Linked DNA regions of Homo sapiens. The protein of the gene in region 1 purifies or fractionates together with the protein of each later gene. This does not show direct contact. Each region holds a gene or a part of one and is shown in the gene's direction. Other genes may lie near its edges.

What was found.
Region 2: the proteins of MICALL1 (region 1) and EHD4 purify together in Homo sapiens (affinity purification with mass spectrometry; 2 studies listed by BioGRID and IntAct, with this or other methods). This does not show direct contact.

Annotation. Positions count from the first base shown.
Region 1 is NC_000022.11:37,899,092-37,911,783, forward strand, and holds the start of MICALL1 (MICAL-like protein 1), read left to right. Parts: upstream 1-7,205; 5' UTR 7,206-7,331; coding exon 7,332-7,477; intron 7,478-7,739; exon of another isoform or gene 7,740-8,387; intron 8,388-12,692. UniProt on the Homo sapiens protein: Lipid-binding protein with higher affinity for phosphatidic acid, a lipid enriched in recycling endosome membranes. On endosome membranes, acts as a downstream effector of Rab proteins recruiting cytosolic proteins to regulate membrane tubulation.
Region 2 is NC_000015.10:41,910,460-41,922,899, reverse strand, and holds part of EHD4 (EH domain-containing protein 4), read left to right. Parts: intron 1-1,158; exon of another isoform or gene 1,159-1,483; intron 1,484-3,277; coding exon 3,278-3,690; intron 3,691-12,440. UniProt on the Homo sapiens protein: ATP- and membrane-binding protein that probably controls membrane reorganization/tubulation upon ATP hydrolysis. Plays a role in early endosomal transport.

The DNA of each region.
Region 1 (12,692 bases):
GCAGCTCAGAGCCAAGAACCTGGGCAGGGCCCTGATTCCTGGGGCACAGACTGGGTAGAAGAGAGAAGAGCAGAGTGGTCAGATTCACAGAAAACAGCCATGGAACTTGGAGAATTCCACCCTAAGAATCCTAGAATCGGCTGGGCAGGGTGGCTTATGCCTATAATCCCAATATTTTGGGAAGCCAAGGCATGTGGATCATGAGGTCAGGAGTTCAAGACCAGCCTGGCCAACATGGTGAAACCCCGTCTCTACTAAAAATACAAAAATTAGCCAGACGTAGTGACGAGTGCCTGTAATCCCAGCTACTTAGGAGGCTGAGGCAGGAGAATCACTTGAACCCAGGAGGTGGAGGTTGCAGTGAGCTGAGATATGCCATTGCACTCTAGCCTGGGTAACAGAGTGAGACTCTGTCTCAGAAAAACAAAAAACAAAAAACCCCACAATGTATTGTCATTAACAATAGTCACCATAGGCAGGGTGCCGTGGCTCACGCCTGTAATCCCAGCACTTTGGGAGGCCAAGGCAGGTGGATCACGATGTTAGGAGATCGAGATCATCCTGGCTAACATGGTGAAACCCCGCCTCTACTAAAAATACAAAAAAATTAGCCGGGCAAGGTGGTGTGCGCCTGTATTCCCAGCTGCTGGGGAGGTTGAGGCAGGAGAATGGCATGAACCCGGGAGGCAGAGCTTGCAGTGAGCCGAGTTCGCACCACTGCACTACAGCCTGGGCGACAAAGCAAGACTCCATCTCAAACAAACAAACAAACAAACAATAGTCACCACATTGTACAATAGATCCTTTGAACTTATTCCTCCTATCTAACTGAAATTTTGCACCCTTTGACCAACATCTCCCCAACCACTCCCCCTACCCACCAGCCCCTGGTAACTACCATTCTACTAGCTATTTCTTTCTTTTCTTTTCTTTTTTTTTTTTTGAGACAGGGTCTTAATCCATCACCCAGGCTTGAGTGCAGTGGTGCAATCACAGCTCACTGAAACCTCCACCTCCCTGGCTCAAGCGATCCTCCTGCCTCAGCCTCCCAAGTAGCTGGGATTACAGGTATGAGCCACCACACCAGGCCTCTACTCTCTATTTCTATGAGATCAACTTTTTTAGATTCCATGGGTGAAAAAAATAATTTTTTTCTTTTTTGAGACGGAGTCTTAAAATGTTTCTCAGCACACTGGATCCAAAGTAAGGATGATGAGATTCTATGTTGGGAAAACATTTAAACCTTGGCCTTTTTTTTTTTTCGAGATGGAGTTTCGCTCTTGTTGCCCAGGATGGAGTGCCATGGCGCATCTCAGCTCACTGTAACCTCCACCTCCCGGGTTCAAGCGATTCTCCTGCCTCAACCTCCTGAGTAGCTGGGATTACAGGCATTTGCAACCATGCCTGGCTAATTTTGCATTTTTAATAGAGATGGGATTTCACCATGTTGGCCAGGCTGGTCTCGAACTCCTGACCTCAGGTGATCTGCCCACCTCGGCCTCCCAAACTGCTGGGATTACAAGGTGTAAGCCACCGTGCCGGCCTGTTTTTATTTTTTTTGTTGTTGTTTTGTTTTGTTTTTGAGACGGAGTTTCACTCTATCACCAAGGCTGGAGTGCAGTGGCACCATCTTGACTCACTGCAACGTCTCCCTTCTGAGTTCGAGCAATTCTCCTGCCTCAGCCTCCAGAGTAGCTGGGCTTACAGGCGCCCGCCACCACCCCTGGCTAATTTTTTTTTTATTTTATTTTTTGAGATGGAGTCTTGCTCTGTCGCCCAGGCTGGAGTGCAGTGGCACGATCTTGGCGCACTGCAAGCTCTGCCTCCCGGGTTCACGCCATTCTCCTGCCTCAGCCTTCTGAGTAGCTGGGACTACAGGCGCCCGCCACCATGCTCGGCCAATTTTTGTATTTGTTTTAGTAGAGACGGGGTTTAACCATGTTAGCCAGGATGGTCTCAATCTCCTGACCTCATGATCTGCCCACCTCGGCCTCCCAAAGTGCTGGGATTACAGGCATGAGCCACCACGTCTGGCCTAATTTTTGTATTTTTAGCAGAGATGGGGTTTCACCATGTTGGCCAGGCTGGTCTTGAACTCCTGACCTCAAATGATCTGCCCGCCTCAGCCTCCCAAAGTGCTGGGATTACAGGCGTGAGCCACTGCACCCGGCCAAGTTCTTGTTTTTAATCTTGCTTTTGTACCTCCCTCCTGCAAAGCCATGCTACAAAGCCTGTTGGCTGGAAGAATGGTGTGTGGAGAAACACGACCGTCTGCCTCAAACTGTCAAGGGCTTCCTTTGGGTTCCCGTGGTTCCTCTGGTTTCCTTTTCCCCGCCTTTATTAGGCTACAGGCAGAATTGTTTATGGAACTGTTTCCTTCCCTGGCCTAGCCAGTCCTTCCCTGCCAGGATCCTGCCCCATGGCTAGACACCTGCAGCTGTTACCTGGGAAGAAATCAGAAAGGATTCAGCCAGATGCAGGGGCTTGTGCATATAACTTCAGCATTTTGCGAGGCCAAAGCAGGTGGATTGCTTGAGTCCAGGAGTTCAAGATCAGCCTGGGCAACATAGTGAGACTCCCGTCTCTACAAAAAATAAACAAAATTATCTGGGTGTGGTGGTGCATGCCTGTTAGTGCCAACTGCTCGGGAAGCTGAGGTGGGAGGATCGCTTGACTCCAGGAGGTGGAGGCTGCAGTGAGCCGTGATTGTGCCAGTGCACCCAGCCTGGGAGACAAAGTGAAACCCTGTCTCAAAAAAAGAGAGAAAGGATTCAAACTCTACCTATACTGACAGCTCTCACCTGTTTGCATTCAGCTTGCTTCCCTGGGAGTTAGGTGTTCTTCAGCCTAAATGATGTTACCATCTCAAAGAGGTGTTCCCTGGCTATGCTATCTGTCCCCATCATTCTCTGTCACAGCACCAGTCACCACCTGAGGTTCTCCTTGTTTTTGTTTTGTTTTGTTTTGAGACAGGGTCTCACTCTGTTGCCCAGACTGGAGGACAATGGCACGATCTTGGCTCACTGCAACCTCCGCCTCCCCAGGCTCAAGTGATTCTCCTGTCTCAGCCTCCCGAGTAGCTGGAATTACAGGCACACACCACACCCAGCTAATTTTTGTATTTTTAGTAGAGATGGGGTTTCACCATGTTGACCAGGCTGGTTTCAAACTACTGACCTCAAATGATCCACCCGCCTCAGCCTCCCAAAGTGCTGGGATTACAGGCGTGAGCCACTGCGCCCAGCCTGTTTTTTGTTTTTTGTGTTTTTTGAGACAGAGTCTCACTTTGTCGCCCAGACTGGAGGGCAGTGGCGCAGTGTCAGTTCACTGCAACCTCTCCTCCCTGGTGCAAGCAATTCTCCTGCCTCAGCCTCCTGAGTAGCTGGGATTACAGGTGTGTGCCACCACACCTGGCTAATTTTTGTATTTTTAGTAAAGACGGATTTTCACCATGTGGGCCAGGCTGGTCTTGAATTCCTGACCTCAAGTGATCCACCTGCTTCAGCCTCCCGAAGTGCTGGGATTACAGGGTGTGCCACTGTGCCCGGCCTCCTTGTTGTTTACTTGTTTACAGCTCCTGGCCCCCAACAGGTGCTCAGTAAATATTGTTGAATCCATGCTTGACTATAAATGTGTGAACAAGGTGTGGAAGGCTGTTTCACACCGACAACTGCAGCTACTTCTTAGGAGGGGACTAGAGTTGAAGGAGACAGTCAAACTGGAACTTTAGATTTATTTTTAAATTTTTGATAAGAATGATGTATTCAGGCTGGGCATGGTGGCTCATGCCTGTAATCCCAGCACTTTGGGAGGCTGAGGTGGGCACATCACTTAAACTCAGGAGTTTGAGATCAGCCTGGCCAACATGGCGAAACTGTGTCTCTACTAAAAATACAAAAATTAGCTGAGCTTGGTGGCCCATGCCTATAATCCCAGCTACTAGGGAGGCTGAGGCAGGAGAATCACTTGAACCTGGGAGATGAAAGTTGCAGTGAACCGAGATCGTGCCACTGCACTCCAGCCTGGGCGAGAGAGACTCGTCTCAAAAAAAGACAGGGTCTCCCTATATTGCCCAGGCTGGTTTAGTCTTGAACTCCTGGCCTTGGCTCCCAAAGTGTTGGGATTACAGGCATGAGCCACCGTGCCTGGCCCCATTTCTTAATTGATAGTTAAAAATAAAACAAAACAGCACTGAATTAAGGGCCCAAGTCTCTCAATTCTAATCCCGAAATTATAGCATGATTTTGGGCAAGTGCCCTACTCACCTATCTCTGTGGCTTCTGATCTCACCTGTAAACACACAGACCCACCTTCCACCTGAACCCTGGATTTACAGTCTGCACAGCATTTTCTCATCCATTATCTCACCTTGTTACCCACAACCCTGGGATTCAGGCAAAGCAAGTATTATCATCCTCATTTTATAGGGTAAGAAATTGGGGTTCATGAGGGTGAGTTGTCTGGCCTGCGGTCACACACTGTGGTCGTACAGGTCCTTACTTCGAAACATTGTGAGCTGACTCAGATAATGAGTTTATAAAGCCCACAAATGGCTAATGGGGGTGACCAGGCTGTGCTGTGTAAGCTATTAGTATGGCAACAGGATCAGATATGGAGCTGTCTTCAGGGACCTAAAGGGAGCCCTTTAGGCTAGTGAGGACAGGGCTATAATCCCTCCTGGTTTCTTTTGTTTGTTTTTGGTTTTTTGTTTTTTAAATGGAATCTCACTCTGTTGCCCAGGCTGGAGTGCAGTGGTGCGATCTCAGCTCACTGCGTCCTCCACCTCCCGGGTTCAAGCCATTCTCCTGCTGGGATTACAGGTGTGTGCCACCACGCCCAGCTAATTTTTTGTATTTTTAGTAGAGATGAGGTTTCACCGTGTTAGCCAGGCTGGTCTCGATCTCCTGACCTCGTGATCTGCCTGCCTTGGCCTCCCAAAGTGCTGGGATTACAGGCGTGAGCCAAAAAAACCCACCATCTTTGAGATGGAGTCTCGCTGTGTCCCCCAGGTTGGAGTACAGTGGCGTGATCTTGGCTCACTGCAACCTCCGCCTCCCAGGTTCAAGCGATTGTCCTGCCTCAGCCTCTCGAGTAGCTGGGACTATAGGCACGTGCCACCACGCCTGGCTAATTTTTTTATTTTTAGTAGACACGGGCTTTCACCATCTTAGCCAGGCTGGTCTTGAACTCCTGACCTCATGATCCGCCCACCTTGGCCTCCCAAAGTGCTGGGATTACAGTGAGCCACCGCGCCTGGCCCAATTTTTTGTATTTTTAGTACAGACGGGGTTTCACTATGTTGGCCAGGCTGTTCTCAAGCTCTTGACCTCAGGTGATCCACCTGCCTCGGCCTCCCAAAATGCTGGGATTACAGGTATGAGCCATGGTGCCCAACCCCGCCCCCCTTAGGTTTTAATGAGAGTCCTGGGTGGTCTTTGAAGGCCTAGGTGGATGCTGGTGTCAGGATCCTGAACCCAAGTCCCTGATTTCATAAAAAGCATCCGGAATCCTGCTTTCCTGCCACTGTTATCCCACAGGGGACAGGGCAGGAGTTGGCAGCTCAGGGCTGGTGAGAAGTCCAGAGGGCTAGCCAGGCACTCTGGCCATGCTCTTCCTAGGTGGCCTGAGAGTCCATATACTGAGCCAAGATGGCGGCCTTCCAGTTGCAGGAGTGTTAGGCCAGCCCAGATTGGCAAGCTGGGTTCTCCAGGCCCTGGGCCAGTATTCTGGACTGGGACTCAGTGGACTTTGAAGAGGTAGAATTCCCTAAGTCGGCCTCTCTCCTTGATAATTTACCCAGAATGGCCCAGATGACAATCTGGGTACAAAATATTTCAGTCCATTTCATCATGTTTACCAAGTACCAGGAGTCAATAGAATTTATGAGTGATAACTAAAGGGTAAGGCACTTTACATCTTAATCCTCTCAGCCACCTTGTAAAGCAGGTATTATCTCCATTTTTAAGTCGTGGAAACTGAGGTCCAGGGAGGCACAAGATCACATGACTAAGGGAGTGGGGAAAGCCAGGATTGGAGATTGGGTTAATAGGGCTCCAAAATGCCTGATCTTTCCACTCCCCTGAGTGCTCAGGGGTGATGAAGATGACTAAGACCCTGTTCCTTCCCTTGGGAGGGAGCGAAATACCCACTCCAGCTAACTATTGCATGGGTCAGGGTGACATCACCACCTCTGCAGCAGATGGAGGCTGATTCATCTGTGGGAGAGTCAGGAGGGGCCTCTGCGGAAGGGTCGGCTGGCTGGAAGGGTTGGCTGGCTGGAAGGGTCGGTTGGCTGGCGGGGGTTTTGAAGACGGCAAAGATAGAGAATGAGCCTTGGGGAGGTTCCAGGGCCAGATACAAACTGCCTGTATGCCTCCCAGGCAGGGGCCTCCTTGGCCTAGGTCCTTCCCATAGGAACTCAAACCACCACCACACTAACCATGGCTGAGGGGACCCGGCAGGCCGCAGTGGGGAGGGACGAGATCCCTGAGCTTACACAGGGGCTGAGGGGAGCTCAGTGAATCACCTAGGGGACACCTGGACCAAAGGTGGCGGAGGGGCGCATGGGTCTCCCTGCCAAGCTATGGGGGAGGGGATGGTGGACATGACAACTTCCAGCTCAGCGGTGCTTTAGGGTGGGGAGCCGGGATGAGGGAAGCTGGTGGCTATCCGGGGGGGGGTGCTCTGAGGTCTGCAGGGGAACTGCCTCCCCAAAGTTTCAAGCTAGGGGTGGAAGGGGGGATTTGCGGTCATTAGGAGCGGGAAGGAGGCCGGATGGGAGCACGAGGTGTCCCGCCTCCAAAGGGTGGAGGGCTCCCGGTGGGTGGCGCGGCGGCGGCCGCGGCGGTGAAGTCATCGTGGGGAGTGGTCCGCTTGCGGCGGGTGCGGGGGCTTCGCGGGCACCCAGTGGAGCAGCGGGAGCCCGGCGCCGTCGAGGGGCGGGCGATGGGGCGCCGGCCCGTCTTGGTAGGGGTGGGCTCCGCACTGGAGGCGGAGCTGCTGCTGGGTGGGGCGCGCCTCCGGCGCGGACGGAGGCGGCGGGACGCCCGCTCCCACGACCGGCCCACAATGAGGCGAGCGGGCAGCGCGGAGTAGGCGGCGGCCGGCCGGGCCGGGCCACGCGGCGGCGCTGCTCGGGCAGGTTAGGGCAGGGCCGCGGGGCGCCCGAGCGAGGACACCGCGGCCCCGCCTCCGCCCCTCCCCTCGCCTGCCGGTCGGCGCCCGAGCTCGGAGCCGCAGCCGCAGCCGGAAACCGGGCCCGCGCGGCGGCCGCCGTCCCGGCCAAGCCGGGGCCCCGAAGCCAGAGCCGGAGCCGGGCGGGCCGCGGGGTCATGGCTGGGCCGCGGGGCGCGCTGCTGGCCTGGTGCCGCCGCCAGTGCGAGGGCTACCGCGGCGTGGAGATCCGCGACCTGAGCAGCTCCTTCCGGGACGGCCTGGCCTTCTGCGCCATCCTGCACCGGCACCGGCCCGACCTGCTGTGAGTGCGGGGCCCCGGGCGAGCGGGCGGCGCGGGGCGGGCTGGGGCCGCGACCGCCGCCCCCCCTCAGTAACACGAAGCCCGGGCGGTGACAGGCGCCGCCCCCGGACACGGAGACGCCGACCCCCCCGACGGCCCCGGACGCCGGGCGGGTCCCTGAGACCCCGGCCCAGGGCGCCCCTCCCCCGCCCGGCCGCCCTGACCCCGCCCGTGGGATCCCGAACTCTCCCCCGAGGCTGGTCCCTCCGCGGGGACACTGGCCCCGCCCACAAAGCGCTGATTTCCGCCGAGGATCGCTGAACCCCTAAGCCCTTGACCTCTTTGAAGGGGTGTTGAGCCCTCTTTGGGGGCCCTGGGCCTCTCCTACCCTAAACTCTTCTCCACGGGCTCGCCGGGCCTCCCCTCTCCCCCGAGGCTTCCCACTCGGGGTGGCCCCTTGCTCCGGGTGTGCAGGTGAACCCCCACTTCTCTGACCCCCAAATAGGAGCTTGTCTCCGGACAGTAGCACAGTTCCCGGCACAGAGGAGACCTCGGCTAACAGGTGTTGGATGAATGGATGTACAGACCCTGTGCTTTCCCCACGCCCCCCAACTTAGGACGCAGCCCTGCCTCCCGGGTGTGTGCTCGATGGCCCTGCAGCCCTCCTCAGTGGGGCACGCAGGTGGGGCGCGCAAGAGGAGTCACAGGCCGGCAATGTTGGGAAGACTCCTAGGATCCGATTGATAGACACCAACCGGGTGCTGCAGGTTGTGAAATGGCCCCTTCCTGCCCAGAGCTGCCCAATGAGGTTCTCATGGGAAAATGCATTCAGACTCCCCGGAACAGTTGACTTGGAGCCTCTGTCTTTGCTCTCTCTGCCTTGAGCCCTGGAACCTCTCCTCCTTTCGTCCCTTCATTCCTAAAACACTGGGTGAGTTTATCTGGTGCCATTCCTTGCACTTCAGGTCTCACCTGTGAATCAGGGAGGAGAGTTCTGGTCCCTACCCCTTTCGCATGCAGCCCTCTTGCCAGGGCTCCCCCAGCCTGGCAGATGGAGGCTTTCTGTGCCTGTTCCACCTCCAGATTTGCACTGTCCGAGGGCAGCATGTGGGAAGGCTTCTAAGGGATTGCCTCAGGATTCCATGATGCAGGTGCACCTGGTTTACCTGTATGTACCCTGCAGTACCGTGTCTGTGGGTGGTGGCTTGGGCCCTGGAGGAGAGGGTTTTGGGGCTGTGGATACAGAAGGGAACAAGATGAGGTGGTCATGTAGGTGGGCCCCTGCCCGCTGTGGGGCATGTGACACCCATACTAATGGAAGCACAAGGTTGATGCCTGGTTGCCCAGGAGCAGGGGGTAGAAGGATGGAGGAAAAGGGCACCAGGGTTAGACCTGGGCATTGGAAGGGAGGGCCCAAGGGGTCTTCTGTTTTGTTTGAGGGGCAGGAGTGAGGCAGGAAGCAGGGACAAACCCAGTGTGGGAGGGGACTTGGGTGTGAAGTGAAGCCATTTGGTGGGCCTGAGCCTGGTGGCATCAAAGTAAATAAAGGCCGCCTGGTTTGTGTTTAGCTTCTCCATGTCTTAGGCGCATGGCCTTGGGTCCTCATGGGCTCTCTCCAGGCATCAGTGTCCTCATCTGTGAGGTGGGATTGATAATGTGACACAGCTCACAGAAATGTGAGGATTGCATGAGATAACAAGCATTCATTTAACATTAGTTACTGTGAGTAACTAATGTTACTTTTTTTTTTTTTAATGTTTTTTATTTTTTTGAGATGGGGTCTCACTCTGTCACCCAGGCTGGAGTGCAGTGGCACAGTCATGGCTCACTGCAGCCCCCACCTCCCGGGCTCAAGCAATCCTCCCACCTCAACCTCCCTAGTAGCTGGGACCACAGGCACACGCCACCACGCCTGTCTAATTTGTTTGTATTTGTAGAGATGGGTTTTCACCATGTTGCCCAGGCTGGTCTTGAACTCTTGAGCTCAAGTAATCTGCCTACCTCAGCCTCCCAAAATGCTGGGATTACAGGCATGAGCCACCATGCCTGGCCCAATAACAATGTTTGATTTCTTCATTTATTCAACCAGTATTTGTAGAGTCATATTGCTCTGTGCTGGACACTGTACCTGGTAATGGAAGTACCAATCGACAAAACAGGCAACCCTACACGCTCTCCCACACCTGTAGGGGAAACGTGTATAAACGATGATGGCAATTCCATGTACCCTATCAGAGGGCTGGGGGTGGGAGACCTCCTAGGGAGAATATAGTCTTCAAGGAGATGGCAGGAGCCAGGTGAGGGCTGCTGGGTGGACGTTCTGGCATGGGACCCCATCTGAGCAAAGGCAAGGGGCGGGAGGTGTGTGCAAAGCTGGAGGCTGTGTAGCTGAGTGGGGAGCACAAGGTAGCGAGTTGGGAGATGCAGTTGGGACAGATGGCTGACAGCTGCTTTTGCTGGCTAAGGAGCATGGATAGGGGCCTCAGGGAACCATGCAGGGTTTTTTTTGTTTTTGTTTTTGTTTTTTTGAGATGGAGGCCTGTCACCCAGGCTGGAGTGCAGTGGCGTGATCTCGGCTCACCACAACCTCTGCCTCCCGGATTCAAGCGATTCTCCTGCCTCAGCCTCCCAAGTAGCTGGGATTACAGGCACGCACCACCATGCCTGGCTAATTTTTGTAGTTTTTAGTAGAGATGGGGTTTCACCATGTTGGCCAGGCTGGTCTCGAACTCCTGACCTCAGGTGATCCGCCTGCCTCGGCCTCCCAAAGTGCTGGGATTACAGGCGTGAGCCACCATGCCTGGCCGAGCCACGTAGGTTTTTTTTTTTGAGACGGAGTCTCGCTCTGTCAGCCAAGCTGGAGTGCAGTGGCATGATCTCTGCTCACTGCAAGCTCCACCTCTTGGGTTCACGCCATTCTCCTGCCTTAGCCTCCCGAGTAGCTGGGACTACAGGTGCCCGCCACCATGCCTGGCTAATTTGTTGTATTTTTAGCAGAGACGGGGTTTCACTGTGTTAGTCAGGATGGTCTCAATCTCCTGACCTCGTGATCCACCTGCCTTGGCCTCCCAAAGTGCTGGGATTATAGGTGTGAGCCACCGCGCCTGGCCAACCACGTAGGTTTTAAGCAAGGGAGGGATGTGGCTGGAAAAAATGTGCAGGGGAGGGTGGCTCCGCTTCTGAGATCCAGAATCATGTCCAGGCATTCATTTGCAATATTGCCAGCGCATTGCACAGGAGAGAAGCTGAGGCCCAGGTCCCACATAATGTGTAGGGAAGTCCTCAGTGATGGGTTGGGAGGATCTCCGTGAGAATAGGAGTGGCCTAGAGTGAGGGCAAGAATCATCTCCTAAATTGGTTCAGGCTTCTGGGGCTGTGGGCCCTGCCTGGGTGAACCCAGTGTTGGCCCAGGGCTCTGCTGGGACGAGGGTTGTGGGGGCTGGGCCATCCCTCCGCACCACCCGAAATCCAGACATGCTTAAGCTCCTTTGAGGGCGTGGACCATGTGGGTTTCATTTCTGTGTCCTTCATCTTCCCCAGAGCCAAGTAGAACTCCGCAGGCCTCTGAAGACTCTCAGAAAATATATGTGTTACCAAAACACAGATGTTAATTAGGGACAGAGATGGGGGTGGAAGAAAACCTGCAGGATCCTGAAGGTTTTTTACAGTTTTCACACTGTTTTCAACATTGATTCATTCAACAAACATTTACGGAGCATCTTCGAAATTTGGGGAACTGTGTAGGGAGTTGGGGGCACAGAGTAGCTAGAATGTGACCCCAGCCTTCTTGGAACACTTCTGGGGTGACCGAAATAAACGGCTGAGACAAGTTGCTTTTGTCTCATTTGGTCTTGGAAAAAGCCTCTGTTGGGGGCTGGGTACCATGGTGTTTTCCTCGCCCTGTTGCAGTGTCCTGAACCGGACCGGGAGACAGAGGTTTCGAGAGGTGAAACACCTTGCTAAGGTCGCACTCTGAGGCAGTGGCAGAAAAGGGGAGCTAGGGAGGCAGCCCAGGGGAGAAGGAAGTGGCCTGGTCAGAGTGGCAAAAAGGGAGCTGGTGCCCAGACATAGTCACCTTGCCTCTCCCCGTCCACCCAGCCCTGGGGCACCAGACCCCTTCCAAGGTCCTCAAGCAACTCTTTCCTGCCCAGGGTTCACAGTCCCTGGCCCCTGCCTGGAAAAGTGTTGGGGGCAGGAGGAGGGGGCTGTGCTTACCTGGCTCCCTCATATCTGCGAGGCCTGCCCTTTACCAAGCTGGGACTCCACCAGCTTGGGAGGTGGTATTAGTGCTTTTCCTGATTTGCACATGGGACAATGAATGCTGGAAGGACTGCTGATCCCCCCAACCCCATGGTCACATGGGAATTCAGCCCTCAGAGGCGGCGTGGCCTGCTCTTGCCTCTGCCCACCCATCTCCGGCAGTCAGGGCTGCAGTTTTCAGCCATAGAAGGGCAAGGCTGCATGCGGATGCACCCAGGAGGCTGCCCGGCGGGAAGACTGAGCTGTCTCTGCTGGTTTCAGCGGCCTGGAGTGGGGAGGGAGGAGGGGGATAAATAAAGCCTGCAGGCCAGCCAGCTGTCCCGTGCTGGGGCCCCCAGACAGGCCCTGCCACCTCTCACCTTTCCTAGTTTAGAAAATCCCTCACTGCTTCCCCAATGGAGGCTGCCCCAGGAGTGGCCCAGTGGGGCCAACCAGCTGTTCTATGCCAGCAGCTCCGGAGTATGTACATTTCCACTCTGGTTCAAACTTGTTCTTCTATTCACGGCCCCATTAAGAAAAACATTCATCTGCAGGCTGGACCGGGTTGGGATGCAGCAAGTTGGTGTGGCTACTCCGAGTGTGTGACACACCTGCAGGGGCCTGTGAGCAGTGGGAGGGCCAGACATGTGGATTCCCAGGGCTGGTGGCTTCCTTTCTCCAGGCCTCAGTGTCCTCATCTATAAAATGAGATCAATTCTTGCCAAACAGAGTTGCTGTGAAAAGAAAGTAAATGAGACAGAGGAGCCCAGCACTGCGCCCTGGGGGAGGTCACATGCGGGTCTTAGTTATGTCTTTGCCACGGACTCCAGGGGTGGCTTCCTGCAGAGAGGCAAAGGATCTTAAGCTTGAAAGCCTGGGCTTGAGCCTCACCCCTTCCCAGTGATTTCCTAGCCTCTGCTTGGATGCCTCCAGGGCCCGTGATCTCATGCCCTGCCCTGCCCTGGCAGCTCCAGCTCTAGCAGCGAATGTTTGCTGC
Region 2 (12,440 bases), on another chromosome or scaffold:
GCTCAGGGACAGAACAAACACAGCTCTGCCTACCTGTACTTCTCGAACTATATTAAGCTCTCATTGTTGCTTTAACACAAGAAAATATGGATATGTACCTGTTCCTCCAGACATGAGTATTGGCGTCACTTATAGTAAACTTAAATCTGGCAGCTCTGTTCCTAATAACTTTTGATTTCACTATAGCATTGAAATGGCATCTTTTTTAAAGATGCTTAAATTAACTGTTAGGAACTCAAATTTAAGTTAAAGTTTAAACACAAGTGTTGCAATCAAAGGTAACCATTCAACCCAGGCGGCCCTGGGAGGAAGAGAGACTGCATCTGCACGGCTGGGTTGGCACAAGCACGGCAGGGTTGGCGCGAGCGCAGCTAGCAGCAGCAGCTGTGTTTCAGTTTGGGTGGCAGGTTTCTTTCGGAACCGACAGTAAGAGGTATTCCGAAATCTTAAATGGGGGTGAGGGGAGGATTGTTTACCAATTGTGGTTTTGTTTGTTTTGTTTTGTTTTGTTTTTGTGACAGGGTCTCACTCTCTCACCCAGGCTGGAGTATAGTGGTGGGTCCATGGCTCACTGCCTCAAACTCCTGGCCTCAAGTGATCTTCCTGCCTCAGCCTCCCAAGTAGCTGAGCCCACATGCATACGCCACCACACCCAGTTAATTTGTTTTTATTTTTTGTAGAGACAGGGTCTCACCATATTGCCAGGTGGTTTCAAACTCCTAGCCTCAAACAATCCTCCCGCCTCTGCCTCCCAGAGTGCTGGAATTACAGGCATTAGCCACCGTGCCCAGCCTTATCATCACTTTCAATAGCAAACCAAAGAAGCTGATTCTAACTAATTTAAGCAGAAAAGAAAATGTTTTGGAGAATTTGTCACAGGATTAATGGGAAAGTTGGAGAACTAGGCTTAGAAAAGAGTTAGGAAGCCGCCACCACCATGAGTAAATTCTTATTTTCACTGTGTCTTCGTGTCATTTCCCCAAGGTTCAGCACTCCTCTCTGGTGGAAGGAAGTGAATGTCTAACTCTAGATCACATGCTTATGCCCCAGCTTGCTAAGGAATGGGGCGAGGGACTCTCTGCCACACCTTCAGCCTCCACAACCCATAAAGGATACCTCCTGACCCAACAGGAAGGGTATTCAGCAAAAGCAACTCACATTCACTCCATGTGCACAGCGTTTTCTTTGATCTGTTTCTGAACCTTCAGATACCCCATCTGATCACTAGGAAGACCACGTGGGAGAGTGGTCAGGTCAGCATGGTGAATCAATCATCTCTCCTGGAAAAGCAAGTCCCCATGCAGGTCCATCTATGGGTGGCTCCAAAGCATCTTCCCGGCACCCAGCAAACAGCCAGTTCATTCATCCGCTGGGGACCTACAATCCTGTGAGCTAGGGCTGTCTGTGCACACGTCTGTCTCAAATGGCAGTAGCACTTAGTGTTACCCTAGGAGGCAGTTTGTTCTGGCCTTTCAGGGACAGAACTCAGAGTGAAACCTTGACTATGTGTGACCCTGTCAGTAGGTCTTTGATATTCCTCTGACCTAAACTGGCTGCTGACAGCAATGAAAATAAACTCTGGCCCACATTCCGAGAACTGCCTTTGTCTTCCTTATCCCCAAGGAGTCAGGGAGTGCCGCAGTGAGACAGAACAGAGAAATGAAAAGCATGAACTGGAAGTATCCACGCGTGTGGCGGCATAAACACCACACTCAGGACAGCGGCCTGCTAGTGGGGGGAAGGGCTCAGGGAGGGGTGCACAGGGGGCTTCAGCGTTACCAACTGTCTTGTTTTCTTTATGAAAAATGGACCTGAATCCAGTTTGCTTGTTCAGCTATTCCTCTAACACCTGTTCTTCAAATGCATGGAAACCTTAGTCCGCAGACCCTCTTTATTTTCACCTAATAGATTATTCACCTCAGATACTTTTTCCTCTGCCTTGGATTCACACCTTCTCCACCCCCACAGCCAACCAGGGTCTCACAATCGATGTTGACATTTTTGTATTTGTGCTATAGTCTGTATCCACAGATGGTTGAGTATTTTGTATTTTAACATTTTACATGAATGTTATCATGCTGTATATGTCCTTTTGAAACTAAGCTTTTACTCTTGTTCTTTTCTGGAGATTTACCTGTGTTGACAAGTGAAGATCTAGTTCCTTCTCACCACCGTATGGTATTTTGTTATCTAAAGAAACGATACTTGGTTTTAAAACATATCTGAAATAGCAAACAAAGCAAAGTGTCAACATTTGTTAAAATTATGTGGTAGGTACATCAGCATTCATTATATGACTTACAGATGTTTATGTATGTTTGAAAGTTTTCAAAATCTAAAAGAAGAGGGGAGACGACCCCTAGCATGGGGGTCAGGCAGGTGACATCTCAGCACTAGCTGGGCTGGATTGAGACTCTGCTTCTGCAACTAGTCAGACTGAGATTAAAAGTCAACTTTGTGGGCTTGGCCTCCTCTTGTTTGCTTTTCGTGGGAATCTGCCTCCCTGGGGAAAGGCCTGAGAGCCTTGACCTTGGGCTGAAGAGTGTTTATGCAGCTGCATGATTTGTGGAGGTGGTCAGAATAGGCTGGACAGAATTTGCTGTGGGCCAGGCCATTTTAAAAAAAGAAATTGGCAAGAGACCATTTTACACAATGGCTGTGATACGTAATGTTAAAAAAATATTCACAATATACCTGAGTTATAAATAGTCCAAAGATAAATATTGATCACAACACTGGCTGGGCCAACCTTTGACCTCCTCAGCACTCTACAAACTTGGGTTAATTGAAGGCGATGCCTCTTCTGTTATGCTTACTGGATACCCCCATGGGATGCCAGGTGGCCTCTGGTTCTCTTTCTTCTGTATTTGGGGCTTTCAGAAAAGTGAGACTTTTCAGAAGTAAGATCTTTTGACCCATGGCCTGTGTTTTTATAAAACCATTGATCAATTCTGCCATCAAGCAAAAGGTCTGTATTAGGTGAAATAAAACACTCATGAGGACTAAATGAAATCGCAGATATGAAAGTCAGCAATTCCCAAAGTGACCATGAGCCCCATTCTCTTTCCTCCCTCCTCCTGTGGAAGGGCTCCCCAGGTCCTTCCCACCCGGATTCATCCAGCCCGTGATTTTCATGTCACCAGGCCTCCACTGCCTCCAGGTTGGAGACAGGGCTCTCTCCCTGGCAGCTGCTGGAGAGCGAGACTGTTCCTGAGCCGCCCATTAAACGTGTCTCCTGCAGCAGTGGCTACACTGACGTGTCCTTCTCTCCACCCAGGCTATGACTTCTGCCAGGTCCTGCAGTGGTTTGCCGAGAGGGTGGACAGGATCATCCTGCTCTTTGACGCTCACAAGCTGGACATCTCAGATGAATTCTCAGAGGCCATCAAGGCCTTCCGGGGCCAGGACGACAAGATCCGTGTCGTGCTGAACAAGGCCGACCAAGTGGACACGCAGCAGCTGATGCGGGTCTACGGGGCCCTCATGTGGTCCCTAGGCAAGGTCATCAACACGCCCGAGGTACTGCGCGTCTACATTGGCTCCTTCTGGGCGCAGCCCCTGCAGAACACGGACAACCGCCGGCTCTTCGAGGCTGAGGCCCAGGACCTCTTTAGAGACATCCAGAGCCTCCCCCAGAAGGCAGCGGTGCGCAAGCTCAACGACCTCATCAAGCGAGCGAGGCTGGCCAAGGTAAGCCAGGAGATGCCTTGCACAGAGGCCAGGGGCTGGGACTCTGCTGTCTCCTCTCCAGAGGCAAGATGGGTGGGAGGAGGCTTCGTTCCAGAAGGCTTAAGGAATGAACATGCGCTAGGTTAAGAATACAGCCTCGAGGTCAGGTGGCCCTGCTGACACCCTAGCTCCTGGCTCTGCACTCCTGGGCAGATGACTAACCCTGTTCTCCAATCTGTACCATGGAGCTAATAAGAGCACTTCACAAGAACTTGGGGTGACAGTTGGTCAGTGTGACAGAGCACTTGGCATAGTGCCTGGTGCACAGGGAGGGGGATCAATCAGTGCACCCACTACATGGTAGCTGTTAGGATGTCAGGACGATAGGAATATAACCAACCAAACCTGAAAGAGGTGGCATTGGTGAGACCAACAGGATGCTGAGAGGCCACTGCTAGTCCCCGTGCACCAAAGGCCAGTGTTACCACCTGGATCCAGGGGAGCCCTGGGAAGAAGTATGGCTCAGTCTTACTCTTGGAGTGTGCTGGTTTTGGGTCACCCCCGCATCCTCATTCTGGGCTGCGGGCTGTTAGCCTGCATGCCTGGGCTCCTGGCTCGCCTGCCTCATAGCTGAGCCTTTCAGCAGCCCCAGGAGTGTGTGCCCAATGGGGCAGTGAGAGGTGACCTGCTGACATCCCTCAAGTGACAGAGTCAATTCATGTCTCCAAAGAGAGAAAAGCATATCCCTCCTCCAAGAGAAAATACAGAGAAAAAAATGGCTCTTTAAAAAATATGTGCATGTTTCATAAAATCATTGTCCTCTAATGCTGGAAGTGCCTTTAGAGTTTTATCTAGTCCTAGTGAAGTTCAAACCTGGCTGATCATCAGAAGCAACATACATTCCCAGGCCCTGCCCCAGAGCCTCGGATATAGGGGTGTGCGTGCACACATGGCCTTGTGTGAATATGCATGTGTGTAAACATGCGCGTGTGTGTGTGTGTGTGTGTGTGTGTAAAGCTCCCTGGGTGATTGGCTATGTGCCAGTCATGGTATGGATGCTGCCATGAGTGCTCTGGGAAGGGTGACTACGTGCCTGGCCAGGAGGCAGGGAGGGCTTCCCTGATGGGGACAGCCAAGGTGGGGACAATTCTTCCTCCTTCTTGCTGCTCATTAGCAGCCTGTCCTCGTGCCAGTGTGCTCACTGGGCAGCCTCTTGCCTGGGTGAAAACAAACACCGTCCTGGCTGCTGCTGCCCCTCACACAGGACCTCGATGTCCTGTGTCCCTCTCTGTCACGTGTGTCCCAGTGCGTGTGCATGCATTCCTCCCATATGGCTCAGCTAACCTGCAGTGGTGTGGTGCTTGTGTGAGTCATCCTTCTTTATCTGTTCTTCCTGGTCCAAGTGGCTTCCTTTCCAGAGCTACAAGCCATTTTTGCTCCAGTTCTGCAAGGCAGATGTGCTAACTAGTTTGTAAATCCACTTACGTGCAGCTCTCCTGAAATGATTTTGCCCTCGCCCTTGTCCTGGGCCTAATGCTTGGTAGCAGGAAGGCTGTTTTTCCACTCGGTGATCCCTTGGTTTGTGGTGTTTCCTTTCTCCAGCAGGTACAACTGAACAACCTTCAAGGTGTGTGACACCCCACATTAGTTTATAACCAAAGTTGGTGACTCATGTCATAGCCTTTGCAGATTTTGAGATTTTTTAAAACTATTTTTAAATGCTCATGGACATTCTTCATTTACCAGTTATTGGTAAATGAAGACCCAGTGACTGGAGATGCTGCTGTATTCAGTCATATAAATAAATAAGGAGGCCGGGCACGGTGGCTTACGCCTGTAATCCCAGCACTTTGGGAGTCGGAGGCGGGTGGATCACAAAGTCAGGAGTTCAAGGCCAGTCTGGCCAACATATTGAAACCCCGTCTCTACTAAAAATACAAAAATTAGCCAGGCATGGTGGCAGGCACCTGTAATCCCAGCTACTCAGGAGGCTGAGGCAGGAGAATCGCTTGAACCCAGGAGGTGGAGGTTGCAGTGAGCCAAGATCGTGCCACTGCACTCCAGCCTAGGCGACAGAGTGAGACTCTGTCTCAAATAAATAAATAAATAAATAAATAAATAAATAAATAAATAAGGAGCAGAAAGCTCGCTGGAAATGCCAAGCGCCTTAACCCGTAGAGCTTCCCTGCCATCCTTGAGCCTCGGGCCCTCTGAACGGGCCAGCGCGGCCTGGGTTTGGAGGCACAGAACGCTGCTCTGTATTCTGACACTGTGAATAATGAAAACCCTTGTGTGGATGCAGGGAGTGGGGGACGGTCAAACTTGCTGAGCTTACTTGCAGGAAAAAGGCTTGTGGTTTTTTTCTTCCTAAGAATAGTATCTGGCTTGTTCCTTTTCACAAAGGAAAATGTTTGAAGTATGGGTATTTGCAGCCGGAGCTTCTCAGTGCCAGTTGCTCGTGGGCAGTGCCATGCTGAGGAACGGGGACAGGAAGCGGGCTCACCCGGAGGAGAAGCCGGACTCAGCACGGCGGCCTTGGCCACTAACTCATGACATTGACCTCACGCCACCTGCAGTTTCATGTTCCACCGCTGAACTTGTTTCTGCTTAAATGGACAGATGCTTACCTGAGTTTTTCTTTTTGGAGTGTTTATATTTTCCAAAAGTGCTTTTATTTTGGTTTATTAACCTTTCTCTTGATCCAGTTTTCCTTTTTCACACCAACTGTTCCAAAGCTCTGTAGTCTGCATTATGTGTGTTTTTTTGTTTGATCCTGTTGACAACTACACAGTTGGGCATTTTTGTCCTCATTTCCCACCTGAGGGAACGGAAGCTCAGAAAGGTGAAGTTATGTCCCCGAGGCTTCACAGCCTGTAAGCTGCAAAGTATACGTTCAAACCTCGGTCAGTGTGACACCTCAGTCCAGAAAGCAGTCACCTGAAATCGGGAGTGAACAGCAGCTACAGTACCTCCTCCCTGTGTCCTTGTTTTCTGCACTGATCTGTTAATCTATTTATTCCATAAAAGTCTCCATCCACAGAAACCCTACAAAGTTTAGGTTTATCAAGCTGACACTTTGAAAACATGCAAAGGGTAAGTTTTCAGATGTCAGCTAAGAGATGTCAAGTCTGAGTTGGGTTGTGGAGTATGTTTATTTATAGAACACCATAATTAACCAGGATTCATGGCCCATCCAGATAAAGCAAGTGCGCCGTTTTAATCAAACTCGAAGTGTCATAAAGGTGACATTTTAATAATATGAAAAGTAGATAGATACTCTTCCCAAAGAGCTCTTGAAGTTTATTTCCCTTCTTTTTCTGTTTGTATATTTTTTTCACATCTCTGTATTTAAGGAACAGGGAAACTTTAGAGTGGGTTTTTGGTTAGCCTCAAAGATCACTTCTTACAATCTCAGTAGACATCCTTCTTGGAAGACGGCTCACACTCTGAGATGCCAATCAGGGTTCATTTCATGATTCTTTAAAGGAAGCTGTTTTGGGAAAGCCCAAAAAAGGGTTTGGAACATGTCATTTACTTTTATTCAGCTATAATTAAAATAGCCAAATTAAAGAAATTAGACTCATACAAATCCCAAACAATGCAAGTTCACTATCAGACCCCACCCTTTAGAAGCGTATTGCCCAAGAATAGGAAAGGCTGTCACCCATTTGGAGATCTTTGCTCAACAAAAATGAGGCAACATTTGAGGAAGAAACAAGTAAAACTGAGAAAGAAGAGGAGAGGTCAGTGATTTTCAAGGTTCACTGTAGTTCTGTGGAATTTAGCTTATTCTTTCAAATGTAGACTCTTCTCAGTCACATGTGATGTGCACAGCCTGGCTTTCTTGTCTATAGGCTGGGCACGGTGGCTCACACCTGTAATCCCAACACTTCAGGAAACCAAGGCGGGCAGATCACTTGAGGTCAGGAGTTCGAGACCAGCCTGGCTAACATGGTGAAACCCCGTCTCTACTAAATGTCATCAAAATGACAAAATGACAGTTTTTCTCTAGGCTAATAACTCAATGAGCAGAAAGGAAAGTCCTCCCTTTTAAATGTATATGAATGTATATGTAGTTCACACTTACACTCTGACACAGATCTCATTGTGTCCAATGATGTGTGTGTGTGTGTGTGTGTGTGTGTCTCCAAGACTGAGACACATGTACTAAAGAGTGATACTGGCCACATCTACTCTGGGCTTGGAGGGTAACTTCAGCAAGTGCTGGATACAAAAATTACAAAAAAAATTACAAAAAAATTACAAAAAATACAAAAATTAGCTGGGCGTGGAGGTGGGCGCCTGTAATCCTGGCTACTCAGGAGGCTGAGGCAGGAGAATCACTTGAACCCAAGAGTTGGAGGTTGCAGTCAACCAGGATCGTGCCACTGCACTCCAGCCTGGGCGACAAAGCAAGACTCCATTTCAAAAAAAAAAAAAAAAAATTCTCCTGTAAAGAAATGAGGCATTTTTTGTGCACCAAATGGATTCAGGCTAAAGCGTGTGAGAATCATGATATAATGGATCATGAAGATCCTGGTATTGCCTAGTCCTCGGCAGGGCTCTAAAAATAACTCAGTCAGCAGCCCTGAGCTACTGTGGATGTGTGTGTGTCAGTGCTTGAGCCCATAAATGGAAGCCTGTCTCTTTGAAGGTTGACCTCAGACAAGTGTGCAGCCCCCTCCGGTCCCCTTTAAGGCTGCACGGAATTACACGTGCCATTGGTGCCAGTTTTGATCTGAGCAGAATAACAAACCCTTGCTCAAGTCAGCTGCCCTTCTCTGCCTCTCACAGTCTCACACTCTTGTTACCCCATGGGTTCATCTTTTGGGTCTCAGGCTTATTAACTGAATTTTTTATATTATCATAAACCCACTTTATAAACGTGCTGATACCCTGGCTTTAAATACTCTATGCAGGTTTCCAGAGCTGGGCTTCCAGCCGCAGGTCTCCAGCAGGTTGCGTTAAGTTTGCAGATGAGCGTGGCACAGTGTGTCACCATGCCTTCCCAGCCCGCCTTCCCCAAACTACTGCCTGATCCTCACATTCCATGAAGCTTTTCATTCCAGCACTGGTCGCTTCCAGCATCCAGCACTCGCTGAAGTTACCCTCCAAGCCCAGAGTAGATGTGGCCAGTATCACTCTTTAGTACATGTGTCTCAGTCTTGGAGGCACACACACACACACACATCATTGGACACAATGAGATCTGTGTCAGAGTGTACGTGTGAACTACATATACATTCATATACATTTAAAAGGAAGGACTTTCCTTTCTGCTCATTGAGTTATTAGCCTAGAGAAAAATTGTCATTTTGTCATTTTGATCCATTTGATTTCCCCCAGTCATCCCCATTAGATGCCTTAGGGCTTCTGCAAGTTTACACAAGGCAAAGGATGACTTGAACAAGATACGAATGTTCAAAAGCCCCCAGGGGTCAATGTAAATTAAACACTTGGAACCCAAATTCATTATATTACTATTTAAATAGAGAGAGTTTATTAATTATTTGGTAAGGAGTAACCAGCCGGGAGCCCTCTCTCTCATTACTGTACCTCCAGCTGTTGGTCTTTGGCCATTAGTTGATAACAAGTTAACATTTGCTCCTCTTTCTAGTGAGCAGAGTGCATTCAAATACATGACCTCTTTTATTCTCATAATAACTCTGTGAGATGAATGTTGTTGTCATTTCTAATTTGTGGATGAGCACGCTGAGGTGGAGATGCCATGCCTGGCCCCAAGTTGCTCAGTGGGTAGGCAGTGGTCACGGGGCCTGAGCCTCATCTTCAAGCTCCAGGTCTAGTCCCCCTCTTCTCTTTCGTACTCCTCCTCTTCCCAATTAGTTTTCTCTCATTATAAAGGTCAGAAGACCCAAGTGTTTCCACCTCCTTCCCCAGGGACAACCACCAGGTCTGGCCCTGGGTCTGGCATGTATTTGGAGACACCTTTGACACATAATTGCAGGAGTGATCTCTGGAGGCTGACTGTGGATTTTAGTCATTCAAGCTGTCCCGTCTGTTTACCAGAAGACTTTAGAAAATGACAGGATGCCATCCTGCCAGCAGCTCGCAGTCTTCACCCGCATTCCCACGTGGTGTCCCGACGTTTGTGTGCCATCATTGTGTCCGTGTTTGATGTGTGGGGAAAGGGAGAATAAAGGACCCTTCCAAAGCCTCTCAGTGAATTAGGCACGAGCAGAAGTCAAACCTCAGATCAAAGTTTTCCAGACTCATTCTATGGGACACAGTTCATTTTGAATTCCAGATTTTGAACAACTTCAGTAAGATTATTAATGCATACCCACAGGGCATACCCACAGGGAGTCATTAGTTCTTTAGGGACAGGAACGAGGCACTTGGATGCTAGTGCCAGCTCTGTATCTACCAACTAGCTGTATGACCTTGAGTGAGTCACATGGATGTCCTGGAACCAGGAATTAAAGTAGATATTGGGGGGTCACTTCCAGATTCAGTATTTCATGATGCTAAGGATTATAATTTACCTTGTGACTTGATGAATTTTTTTTTCTTTTTTTGAGATGGATTCTTGCTGTGTCACCCAGGCTGGAGTGCAGTGGGGCAATCTCAGCTCACTGTGACCTCTGCCTCCCGGGTTCAAGCTATTCTCCTGCTTCAGCCTCCCGAGTAGCTGAGACTATAGGAGCACACCACCACACCCAGCTAATTTTTGTATTTTTAGTAGAGACAGGGTTTCACCACATTGGCCAGGCTAGTCTCAAACTCCTGACCTTAAGTGACCCACCTGCCTCAGCCTCCCAAAGTGCTGGGATTACAGGCATGAGCCATCGTGCCTGGCCAACTTGATGAACTTCTGAAAGCAGGTCTGTGCACAGAAGTTGGCCCTGGGTTATTGTTTAGGGCGCACCAGGAAGGGCAGGACGCGGGTGGACATGCAGAGGCAGCGTAACAGGAGACTTCCACAAACCTCGCTAACAGAACTTCCTAGAAGTGGAGGCTGGGACCGAGAGCAGCTGCAGTGTGAGCAGGTCACCTAAGGGTCATGACTCAGGTGGCACCAAGCTGGCGGAAGGAGGAGGGAGTTGAGACCTGGCACAAGATCAGCCCCAGGTTTATCAGGGCTGTGAAGGCCTAGTGTCGGGGCCACCTCGGTCATCAGCCAGCAAACACCATGAGGCCTGAGACGAGGGATCAGGTGACACTCAGTGGGTGAAGGGTGTGGCAGGTGCACATCAGCTGAGTTCAGTGCAGGTAAAGCAGGCCCTGGGCACCAGGGAGTGTTCAGGAACAGTGTGCCCAACCTCGGGGGGTGGGCGGCAGGGAGTGGGTGAGGAGTCAGCCAGATGAGCGGGAACTAAGCCCTCCCTGAGCTGGGGCCTGGCGGCTCAGAGGTACCTTACTAGTACGTGGTGAGGGCTCTTGGGAAGCCCTACAGAGGCCTAGGCAGCTGCTCCAGGGCTAGGCCCCAGAGCAGGGAAGGGGGTGGTCTCAATAAGAAGCCCTTGTGTTTGGGAGACTGAGCAGCTGTGGGGGCCTCCTGCTTCCCTTGGGGTGGCTCCAGGGTGGGGTGAGCCTGAGCACAGAAGAGAGAGGTATACATAGGTATACATAGAGAACATACTCATAGGCCCAATCCAGAATTTCCAGGAAGGTGGAGGCCAAGGAAATGATGCAAGGACAGCTGGTGAGCAGCTGGTTCTCCCTGATGGAACGTGGCAGCTCCTCCAGTCCAAGGGTGCTCCCTCAGCCCTGGCCCTCCCCAGCCCACCCACACCAAGCCAGGCATTCACTGTCGGAGGCAAAGGAGTTGGTATCTTACCACTTGCTCATCACAGCGGTTAAAGCCCAGGATTCTAAATAACGGATCCCAAACTTCGGGTTTCTCAAGTTATCTCTAAGAATCTTGTAAATCATTTCAATTGTCTTCATTTGAAAAATAAGTACATAAACAAGTTTGCTGGTGACAGAAAGGTTTAGCGTCATCTCTCCAAGACCATCCTCTCAGCGGTAGCCAGGCTGCACAGTGCATGCTTCTGTTAAACGACCCTTGTGCAGATGGGAAGTTGACATTGTCTGACCTCAGCATGTCAGACCTTGCATTAGGTACTTAGGTTAGCATCCAAATCCTCACAAAATGTTTTTGGCTGTGTCCAGCATGTGTCCACACACGGGCCCTCAGCTGAGCTATGGAATGTATCTGCTTACCCCCTTTATTTAATTTCAACTTCTACAAGATTACAGTAGAAGTCTGTTTTCTTTAATAGGATTTTCCGTTGCTACATAGTCATTTTCTTTTTGTAATCACCACTCTGTTTTTCATCCTTTCTTATTTTAGTTACTTACTTGACTTCACAATTACTCTGAAGTTCAAGATATACAAAGTAGCCGGGCATGGTGGTTCATGCCTGTAATCCCAGCACTTTGGGAGGCCAAGGTGGGTGGATCACCTGAGGTCAGGAGTTCGAGACCAGCCTGGCCAACATGGTGAAACCCCGTCTCTACTAAAAATACAAAAATTAGCCAGGCGTGGTGGTGCACACCTGTAATCCCAGCTACTCGGGAGGCTGAAGCAGGAAAATCGCTTGAACCAGGAGGTGGAGGTTGCAGTGAGCCAAGATCACGCTGTTCCACTCCAGCCTGGGCAACAGAGCGAGATTCCATCTCAAAAATATATATATACAAAGAGAACTTTTGTAGTGAACATTTCTTAATATCCTGAAGTTGGAAATCAGTAGAAGAGTGGAAATGTTGAGGCCAGATTCTCGCCCCTCCAATGACAGCCTGCTGGCTAC